Linked DNA regions of Homo sapiens: region 1 is linked to region 2. Evidence: fine-mapped expression QTL. A gene starts in region 2. The other region holds a variant in brackets. All regions are shown on one strand. Distances are between the middles of the regions. Region 1 overlaps PHEX (phosphate regulating endopeptidase X-linked). Region 2 holds the start of PHEX (phosphate regulating endopeptidase X-linked).

Evidence for each region. PIP is the estimated chance that this variant, and not a neighbour inherited with it, causes the effect.
Region 1: its variant is fine-mapped to the expression of PHEX in spleen (GTEx, PIP above 0.99).

Annotation. Positions count from the first base shown.
Region 1 is chrX:22,107,138-22,112,650 of GRCh38, forward strand. It overlaps PHEX (phosphate regulating endopeptidase X-linked), which reads left to right. Exons shown (of 22, transcript NM_000444.6): 10 at 4,330-4,423. Among named protein-coding and RNA genes, the nearest start is that of PHEX-AS1, 63 kb to the right of the region's middle. The variant G/A (reference allele first, on the strand shown) is at 3,564.
Region 2 is chrX:22,030,426-22,035,425 of GRCh38, forward strand. It overlaps PHEX (phosphate regulating endopeptidase X-linked), which reads left to right and starts at 1,900. Exons shown (of 22, transcript NM_000444.6): 1 at 1,900-2,698. The coding sequence starts at 2,581.

The sequences.
Region 1 (5,513 bases), 77 kb after region 2:
ATCTCTCTTACAGCAGCACTGTGAGGATCATAATTAATGTGAGATGCCTAAATGGGATGATCTCAGGGGAGCTGGAAGGGCCCCTGCTTCTCAAACCCCAGTATACTTTGCCATACTACATCTTCCACCACCACCATTGGGCCCCCTAACAACTTCCCTAGTTATTCTGGCTCATCACCACCCCTTTGAGGGAATATCTTTTGAACTGATGAAAGGACATCTGCTGGCTGTTGACCTCCTTCTCGTCTCCACCTATGGATCCAGCATGGTTCACATGCCTGGTAAGAGGTATTTTAGAGACAAAGAACATAAAGTCCTTGCACTAGGACCAAGATCGGCCCATTAATGTGCTAGACACCATGACCTGGTCGCTGTCTGCATCTCCCCAGTGTGGCTGGCCTTTCTGCCCACTTCCTTGAGTGATGATCCTGTTCACCATCCTCTCCAACATATCAGCCGATTCCACCATTATTTAGCCTGTCCAGAGTTCACGTTCCTGTTTGCAACACCAAAGCCTTTTAACCTTTCGGCATGCTTCTCTCATGAAGCCTACTCTTAACCCTCAGTTTGAGATGTACTATCCTTACAGTGAAGTGTCTGGCACATACTTTTGGGTGCTAGTGTCTACCAAATCATTATTTATGCACTTGCCTCATCTCCCCTGCTCAGCTAAAAGCTTCAGGAAATCAGGGACTATCCATCTCCCCAGCACAGAGAACTGTTAGTATATATGTGGGTGCTCAGGATGTGTTGATTGAGTGAATGAAAGAAAGACCCTTATGTACTGACAGTGTGTCCCTTCAATTAAACAACCCAATTACATGAACAAGCTGAAATCTGAAGTCCTGTGTTCCCAGCTGGACTTTGAGTTCTCTAACTGTAGGTGCTGGGTTCTTACTTCTTTACGTTCCTCATGGCATCTGGCACAATACTTGGCCAACAATAAGTGCTCAGTGAGCACTTCTTGTCCTATTAAGGAGTGGAGATGTGAATGCAAAAGAGCCAAAGGAATGACCCCAAACCACTTAGTGGCCTCAACAGAGATGGGCAAGGGCTGGACTTTGCTGATTAGTGCAGTGGTGTCTTAGGGGAATGCGCATATCCTAACAAGATCCATTGGGTCTGAGAAGAACATTTTAGAACTTCTATATCTTTATTTAAATTTAAAAATAATTAGGCTTTATACAGAGTGGTATAATGGACTTTGGAGACTCAGAAGCAGGGAGGGTAGGAAGGGGATGAGGCATAAAAAAACTATAGATTGGATCCAGTGTACATTACTTGGGTGATGGGTGCACTAACATCTCAGACTTCACCACTATACAATTTATCCATATAACCAAAAACCATTTACATCCCCAAAAGCTATTGAAATAAAAAAACTTTATAAAGAAAAATAATTACACTTTATTGAGTTCTATATTGATGGCTATGGACCCTTCATTTGATCTGTATGGAACATGTGAGAGGGGCACTGTCACCCTCACTGGCTTGTTTTCATTCAATATATTAAAAATAATCTCAGCTGATACGGTGGCTCACGCCTGTAATCCCAGCACTTTGGGAGGCTGAGGCGGGAGGATCACCTGAGGTCAGGAGATTGAGACCAGCCTGACCAACATGGTGAAACCCCATCAGTACTAAAAATATAGAAATTAGCCAGTCGTGGTGGCGGGCATGTGTAATCCCAGCTACTTGGGAGGCTGAGGCAGGAGAATTGCTTGAACCTAGGAGGCAGAGGTTGCAGTGAGTGGAGATCGCGCCATTGCACTCCAGCTTGGGCGACAGAGCAAGACTCCATCTTCAAAAAAAAAAAAAAAAATCTTGAGCGGTTTACATATAGCTGTGGATTTATGAATTTTATTATCTAGTTTATCTAGTTTACTACTTACAAAGTAGACAAGTGGCTTAAAAATTCTTGCAGGAAACAGGAATTGAAATGATTATTGATGATGTAAGCACAAGAGAACAGCTAGAAATTGGCAGAAGTGACCCTTCTCCCAGGCTGGTATGCCATGTTGGTTAGCCAGATGACAAAAGAAATACAATGGTGGTCTAACAAGAACAAGGACAATGGCAATCTGACAAAGACATGTCATACATTTTTGAAATAGTCAAGAAGACTCTAAGAAATGTGGATTTATATTCATTGTCATTGTTGTATTAACCAAATCCTATATGGACACTGTGTCTTGAAGAATTAACCCAATGGTGTTTGAAGAATTAATGACTTTTGAAGATTTTAAATTTCATTTTACCTCATCTTTTGAAATTTCTGTTTTTGTATTTGTTAAAAATATTCCTAATATATTAGTCTATTAGTATATCTCTATAGAAATTAAACATCCATGTATTGGGTGTGTATGCTGAAAAATATTTTACTAGTAGGAGCGCATGTCCACTGTGTCAGAATGTCATACAAATGAGAGTGTAGTTTGTTCTTGATGGGCTTTTAGCATCATCATGTCATATTGCTCTCATGTGATTGGCTCACCAGAAAGCCATTTCAGGAATGTGTGTTATTAGTCACCATGGTAATGGCACAGCTGGGAGGGGAATGGATCATTAAAGATCCATCATCACTATTGAGTTAGAAATTAACTGAGATCACACATTCTTCTGAGGTCAGGTCATCTTTTGCTTATAGAAAAAGGCAACCCTTAAAATTTAACAGATTTTTAAAGATATGTATTATAGGCATTACATGAGCTTATGAGGTTGTTCATACATTTGGAAGTGAAAGACAAAACCCTAGAAATTGACTATTTGTCAAGCATTTTGTTATTTATTTGAACCCTGCAACAACTCTGTAAGGTAGGGATCATCCTCATTGTATGAAAAATAAAGATAAAATCACAGACCTTAAGTGACTTGTCGAAACTCACATATTTAGTAAGTATAGAATGAGGGTGCAAAATTAGATGATTGGTATTAGCCAATATTTTGCTGTTAGTTTCCAAAGGCAAAGAATACATAGGCATTGTATCAAGTCACCTAATCCAGTAAGTCCTCACTTAACATCATCGATAGCTTCTTGGAAACTGTGACTTTAAGCAAAATGACAGATAATGAAATCAATTTTACCATAGGCTAATTGATGTAAACAAGAGTTAAGTTCCCATGGCATATTCCTGCTCACAAAAACATCACCAAACTTCTAAATAAAGACCAAAACACTTCTAATATTGAACATTGAATACATGTGAGCTATGCGTACATTTAAGAAAGACAAATAAAAGCAAGTAAGATAATTTTTTTTGATCTTTGGAACCCATTCAATGTTTTTGTAGACATATTCTTTTTTTTATCCTTGTTTTCATTTTTTAAATTATACTTTAAGTTCTAGGGTACATGTGTACAACGTGCAGGTTTGTTACATATGTATACATGTGCCATGTTGGTGTGCTGCACCCATTAACTCAACTCGTCATTTACATTAGGTATATCTCCTAATGCTATCCCTCCCCCCTCCCTCTATGCAGCCATAAAAAATGATGAGTTCATGTCCTTTGTAGGGACATGGATGAAGCTGGAAACCATCATTCTCAGCAAACTATCACAAG[G/A]ACAAAAAACCAAACACCGCATGTTCTCACTCGTAGGTGGGAATTGAACAATGAGAACACTTGGACACAGGAAGGGGAAAGTAAGATAATTATTAACCCAGTTATTCTAGTTCAGGGTTGCAGGTGCTGGAGCCTATCTAGGCAGCTCAGGGCACCAGGCAGGATCCAGCCCTGGCTAGGATGCCATCCTGTCACAGGGTGCAGTAGCTCACCATGCTCACTCACACTGGGAATGTGTAGACACGCCGATTAACCTAGCAGGCACATCTTTGGGATGTGGGAGGAAACCACAGCACCCAGAGAAAACCTGTGCAGACTTGAGGAGAATGTGCAAACTCTACACAGACAGTGACCCTGGCCCAGAATTGGTTTTTTCCTTATCAACTGTATAACAAAAGGATGTTGAATGAAATGATGTTATTCGAGGATCTGCTGTAATTTGAAGGTACTCACAATTTCCAGACACGAAAGGCTGTGTAACAGTGGACTTTATACCCTGAGAGTGAAAGTAAAATGTTCACTCTGAGGGCTGGAGCTGGAATCTTTCCTTCATCTATCTCTGTTAGGTGGTGAAAAGCAAGCCAATTTTGGTTGTGCTTATTGACATTGTATCATCTTATGTCATTTCTCAAGTGAAAGTTCTGCATTTTTGTATGAGTAAGAGGTCCCTCGATGGAGCTTTGCCAACTGTTTCTCTCAAGATGTTCTGCAGAGCATCAGATATTGACCTAAAATACAATAAATGGGCATCTCTCTCTGTTAACAGGACCATTGCCAACTATTTGGTGTGGAGAATGGTTTATTCCAGAATTCCAAACCTTAGCAGGCGCTTTCAGTATAGATGGCTGGAATTCTCAAGGGTAAGTTTAAGAAGATTGCAGTGTTACATCGCTGGATAACTTTACATGCTGGAATAGTCCATATATTAACTGATCCAGTAAAAATCATCTTTAGGGATTAGACAGGGGGAGTTTGTAGCCCAAGCTCTATTGTTTTTGTGTGTGTGTGTGTGCCTTATTTATTTTTATTTAGGTATAAATTACATATGGTAAGGTACACTCAAGTTTTACTTTGATGGGTTATATAAAGATATTTAGAGAAATACTTGAGGCCACACATTGTTTTCAAACTTCCCCGTCTTATTAGTGTATTCCCATTTTCCCCCAGAGTTTTTAACTGGGTCACTGTAATTATAGTTTTAACATTTCTTTGTGATATATTTGTAACTATCTTTTATTCTCAGTATTCTGAATATTTAAAATGTGCATGATAGAGATATTGGATGGTAGAACTTCATTTTCAATTTGGAAATGGAATTTTGTCTTAAACTTTGCCTATACCTTCCATCTTTGAATCTATCCTCTGCTAGGTCCAAGAGGCTCCAATTTAGTTTTCTTGCTCAACTGTCTGAGATGGTTTTCCTCCACCTGCTCACCTGGCTCTTTATTTATTTATTTTTATTAGAGATGGGGTCTTGCCATGTTGCCCAGGCTTGTCTTGAACTCCAGAGCTCAAGTGATCCTCTCACCTCAGCTTCCCAAAGTGCTGGGATTAAAGGCACGAGCCACTGTGCCGGGCCTCACCTGGCTCTTTAACCTTTGCTTCTCTCCCACCCTTGCTCGTCTCCCAGTTTGTACCCATGTTACTCTCACCTTTGTTTTTGAGGCTTATGTCTGACTAATTCTCCTACCACTAGAGGCCGTAAGGATTTTGTATCTTTGAAACAGTTTTTATTTTTCTATCAATTTAAAGTTAAGTGAATGGTGAATCTTATAAGCTATGATTTCATTCAAGAGGCATTTTAGTTATTAGAGGAACTAATAAGTATAGAAATTCTTAGTGGGCCATTACTCTGGAAGAGTAGTGCAATTATTTTGGATATGCTTTGACCCTATAAAGTCACTAGCATATAAAGTTACTTTAGGGCTGGGTGCAGTGGCTCACACCTGT
Region 2 (5,000 bases):
CTGGCTAATTTTTGTATTTTTAGTAGAGACAGGGTTTCGCCACATTGGCCAGGCAGATCTCGAACTCCTGACTTAGAGTGATCTGCCCACCTCAGCCTCCCAAAGTGTTGGGATTACAGGTGTGAGCCACCACTTCTGGCCCCGAAGTTGGTTTTTTGTTTTGTTTTGTTTTGTATTTGTTTTTTTCCAGACAGTCTTGCTCTGCCGCCCAGACTAGAGTTCAGTGGCATGATCTCAGCTCGCTGCAACCCGCCTCCTGAGTTCAAGCAACTCTCCTGCCTCAGTCTCCTGAGTAGCTGGGATTACAGGCGCCTGCTACCACGCCCGGCTATTTTTTGTATTTTTAGTAGAGACAGGGTTTCACCATGTTGGCCAGGCTGGTCTCGAACTCCTGACCTCGTGATCCACCCGCCTTGGCCTCCCAAAGTACTGGGATTACAGGCGTGAGCCACTGCGCCCAGCTGAAGCTGGTTGTTAAGAGTAAGTGGCTAGGGCTAACTTGTATGATTTTTATTGCTCTCCTTTTCACTGTGAAGGGCCAGGAAATGTCGATGTTGGAGCTGCAACATTGAACATGGTTCCTGACTTTGTGGAACTCATGGTCTAAGATGTGTTCTAGAGTGAGGTCCAAAAACTCTTGGGAGAATCCCATACTAGGGGCCAAAGTCCTGCTAGGGTGTGTTATGGAATAACAGCAACAAAATAATGTCAACAGCCAATGAGCACAGGATAACTACAACACACCATGATGTCATAACTTGGACAAAGGCTTGTGACCCCCTGACTTTGGCGCAACATGAAATGAGCAGAAAGTAAGGTATATTATGGAATAAGCCCCAAAACTTGAGAGAATCCCATGCTAAGGGCTTAAGCCCTGACCAAGACAAGCCAGACAGGACCATGAATGTGTGGCCATGTTATACTGAGCTCATCAGCACCTGCTGAGCTCCTGTGTCACCTCTAAAGCCATGCGCACAAGTTTTGCATTGAGATAATTGCTCTACTGGTTTCTAGATATAGTTGAATTCTCCACCCCCACTCCCACTGCCCTATGACCTCCAGCAAAACAAAAGCAGGTAGGTAGTAATTGTGTTGTGAGTTAACGATATCTATATCTTTGGATAATAAAATCTATATCATTTCAGTGGTAGCATTGGAATATCAGTTGCCCTTCCCCATGAAGAAAGCACATTGTTATCGTTTAAATCATTATCATAATCAAAAATATCAAAGACCCAGTCATTCATCAGTCTTTCCAGTGAAGTCAACTGCCTTTGTTTTTTGTTTGTTTATTTTTGAGACAGGGTCTCTCTCTCTGTCACCCAGGTTAGAGTGCAGTGGCGCGATCTGGCTCACTGCAACCTCCACCTCCCAGGCTCAAGCGATTCTCCCACCTCTGCCTCCTGAGTAGCTGGGAATACAGGTGCTCACCAACATGCCCGGCTAATTTTTGTGTTTTTAGTACAAACAAGGTTTCGCCTTGTTGGCCAGGCTGGTCTCGAACTCCTGGCCTCAAGCGAGCCCCCTGCCTCAGCCTCCCAAAGTGCTGGGATTACAGGCGTGGGCCACTACGCCCGGCCTGAAACCAATTGCCTTTGAATTCATCCTGGGGAATCTGCTGAAGTGGACAGTTTATGTAAACACAAAAACATCCTAATGAATGGCTGCCTCAGTAGGAGTGGCAGACAAAACACATGGTGCACTTTTCATCAAAAACACACAAGGAAAAAATTTTTCATCATATCTTTTGTAGTTGCTAATAAACTTAATTCACGCACTTGTGTTTTTTTGTGGGTTTTTTTTTTTGTACACTTCTTAGTACCACAAAGAGGAAGTGCTTTTTCTCCTTCCTTTAAGAAAAAGTTCCAGTTCAAACCATCAGCCTCTGTAGGTTGTCTTAATTGCTACTTTGCACTGCACTGGACTATGACTGATTTTTGGCACATGCTATCATACACAAAGTTCCTGAAATAAAATGCTCCAGGATATCCTAGGAACTCTTAGAAGGCTTTAAAAAGGGACTCACACACTGAAAGAATATCTTTGATGAAGACAATTCAGGCAAGCAGAATGATTCTTGCAACAGAATTACATGATTAATTGAGATCTTGAAGTGGGTCCGGTGAATCCTGGCCACCTAACTTATCATGATTTGGGGGAGTTTCACGAGAATCCAGTTTTGATAAAACAATTGTTTTTTTCCTCCCCAAGTGACTATACATTTAAATAGCTAAAACATCTGTTCAGCAACATAGTAAAACATATATACTCGGAACGCTTGAGAGAAGAGCCTGCCAAACAGGGACTTTGCTGAGGGAGAGCACCAAGATAAAGCAACACTGTTTGTTTTGTCTAGTCAGGGGGAAAGCCAAGGCAACCAATATTTTGGTTTTTATAATTTTCATTTGTGAAGAATTATTTGAGAAAGGGTGGCGAGGGGAGATTTCCTGACGGCAGTTTCTTAAGCTGTCCATTAGTAGAAGAGCAAGAAAGCCTTGGATGTCAACGCCTCGCTCTTGAGACCAGCCACCAAACCACGAAAAGTGACTTTCTTCTCGTGTGCTCTCTACGGCCCTTCTGATGGAAGCAGAAACAGGGAGCAGCGTGGAGACTGGAAAGAAGGCCAACAGAGGCACTCGAATTGCCCTGGTCGTGTTTGTCGGTGGCACCCTAGTTCTGGGCACGATCCTCTTTCTAGGTAAGTGGAGTGCAGGAGGCCGGGGGAACTGGGTGTGTGTCGAGAAGTTTCCTTGTGCTTTATTGTAGCAAAACTTGTCATAACACAGGTATAGGGCTGTTTGCCTGCGTTCATAGGTGGTGTATCTTTAGTTTCTATCAAATATGCAAATGATAAAGAAGGCTTTTTTAAGGAGCCTAAATAAATAAATACACCCAAGTACCAAATGTATAGTCCAGAAGGCAAAGTGGGTGTAAGTGGCTTCGAGTGGCTGGCTGATTCTGTTGCATTGGGTGGAAAATTTTTTATGTGGTACATTTAGCAAAATGAGTGTTTGTGAATTCATAGTCACATAGTTTCATTTATATTTTGAGGAAAGACTTTACATTGTGATGAAAACCATGCTGGAGTGTCTTTCCATTTGACTTTTATTAATGTTTGCTTGAACGAATCATGAAATTTAATTCACAAAACACAAATCAGTCCTTTAAAGTGTGCTTTTAATGATATTCTTCAATTCCTTTCTTATCCAGTGACTCTGGTGAGATGCAATTTGATTTACAAATTAATATGAAGGAAAACAGAGGTTTTCCCCCAAGATTTGAAAGATATTGTGATTCAGTTATTTTAATGACTGTTGGTGAGAATGATGTACCCAGAGAGTATATAGGATGATAGAAGTGTATTCCCATGAAAAAGAATCAAATATCTTGGAAAGGAGTGAGGGATTTTCTAAAATTCTAGGCTTTCTGAACCCTTGACTATTACCGTTTTAATTTTTCTCATACAACCCATAATACTTCATTAACTTGAACGTTACATAGGAACGAGGAGATTCTAGGTGCAGTTTGAAATGTAGCAAACCTGCAGGAGGCCATGTTTATTTTGGCAGGGGTAAACCAGTAATTAAACTTTAAAAGAGTTAGGGTTGTGTGGTTGAAAACTGCTAAAATGAGCAAACCATCTTTCCACGCTTTCTGTGGCTGAAGATTTAGGAAATTAGATGGGTTTATTGCTTTCTGATAAAGCGAAATCTCCTACTCCTGCAACTGAATCTGTGGCTCTTGAAAACTCTTGTAAGATTTCTCAGCACTTAGGGTTTAAACAAGGGTCCTCTGCTGAAATTCCAAACAAGAGGAAAAATTCTATGGGCATGCCAAAAGACTACAGGCTACGTGCAACGTGACTGCAAGGTTAGGTTTTGCAAATGCTCCCAAACTTAAAAATCCCAATAATTATTGTTTATGTAAAAATATGTACTCTTTTTAACGATATTACCACTGCACGAAACTTTTACAAAACTCTACTTTTATGATTACCTCCTGAGGCCGTGGCATATCGGTTGAAAGATTCTCCGCGGCAGCAAATCTTTGTTCTTTCAGAGAAAATTATTCTCAGGAAATAGTGCCGATGTTTTTAGAGCAAAGTAAAATTCATCAAGCCAGACGCTACTATTATGGATAAGGAGGCCTGCATAAAATATGAAAGAGAACTTTCCAGCGTGCCCAATAACCTGGCTCTCACCTTGACTCTCTAAGAGGAGCTCAAATGATGTTAGAGAATAAGGGCAAACTGAGGCTGTGGCCTCTACAACTTTGCTTCTCAAAATGGGGTCTGTGGACCAGCAGCATTAGCATCACTGGGGAGCTTGAGCTCCACCCCAGACCCGCTGATTCACAATCTGCATTTTCACAAGACCCCCAGGGGACTGTTTGCAAATGCAGGTTTGAGAAGCATTGCTTCAGGTGACCATATCTATTTGGATGTATACATTCAGGGACACTTCTTTTTGTCAAATATTTCTGCACTATTTTAGAATCACCCCCTTACCCCCTCTCCCCGTCCCTCTCCTCAACTCTGCCACCCACCTCCACTCTGCACCCAGGCAAAGTGCTTGTCTGAAAAGCTCCAGGGACCTGCCTGGCAATGCTCTTCATGACAATATTCTAGTTAGGGTCGTCGTCTCTTCAAGGGGCTTCCTGCTTGACTTTGTGGTATATTTCTCTGCCTGTCCACATTCACTTACATGCCTGCAATTTCTAGCATCCCTTCGTACCTCATCTTTGTATCTGAGGCTCTGGGATAATCTCTCCTCGCAACCTTAGTGCTTCTACAGTAAGAGTGATTGCCAGTGGTCTTGCAGTGGCTTCTGAGAAGCTACAGAGCACCAGAATGGAAAACCTTTCTTCTTCTCCTTCCCCTCTCTTTCCTCCCCACAATCTGTTTCTCAGATGCACTGGCTGGCAAACTTTTTCTGCCAAGAGCCAGATAGATAGTGAATATATTTGGCTCTGTGGGCCATACGGCCTCTTGCAACTACTCA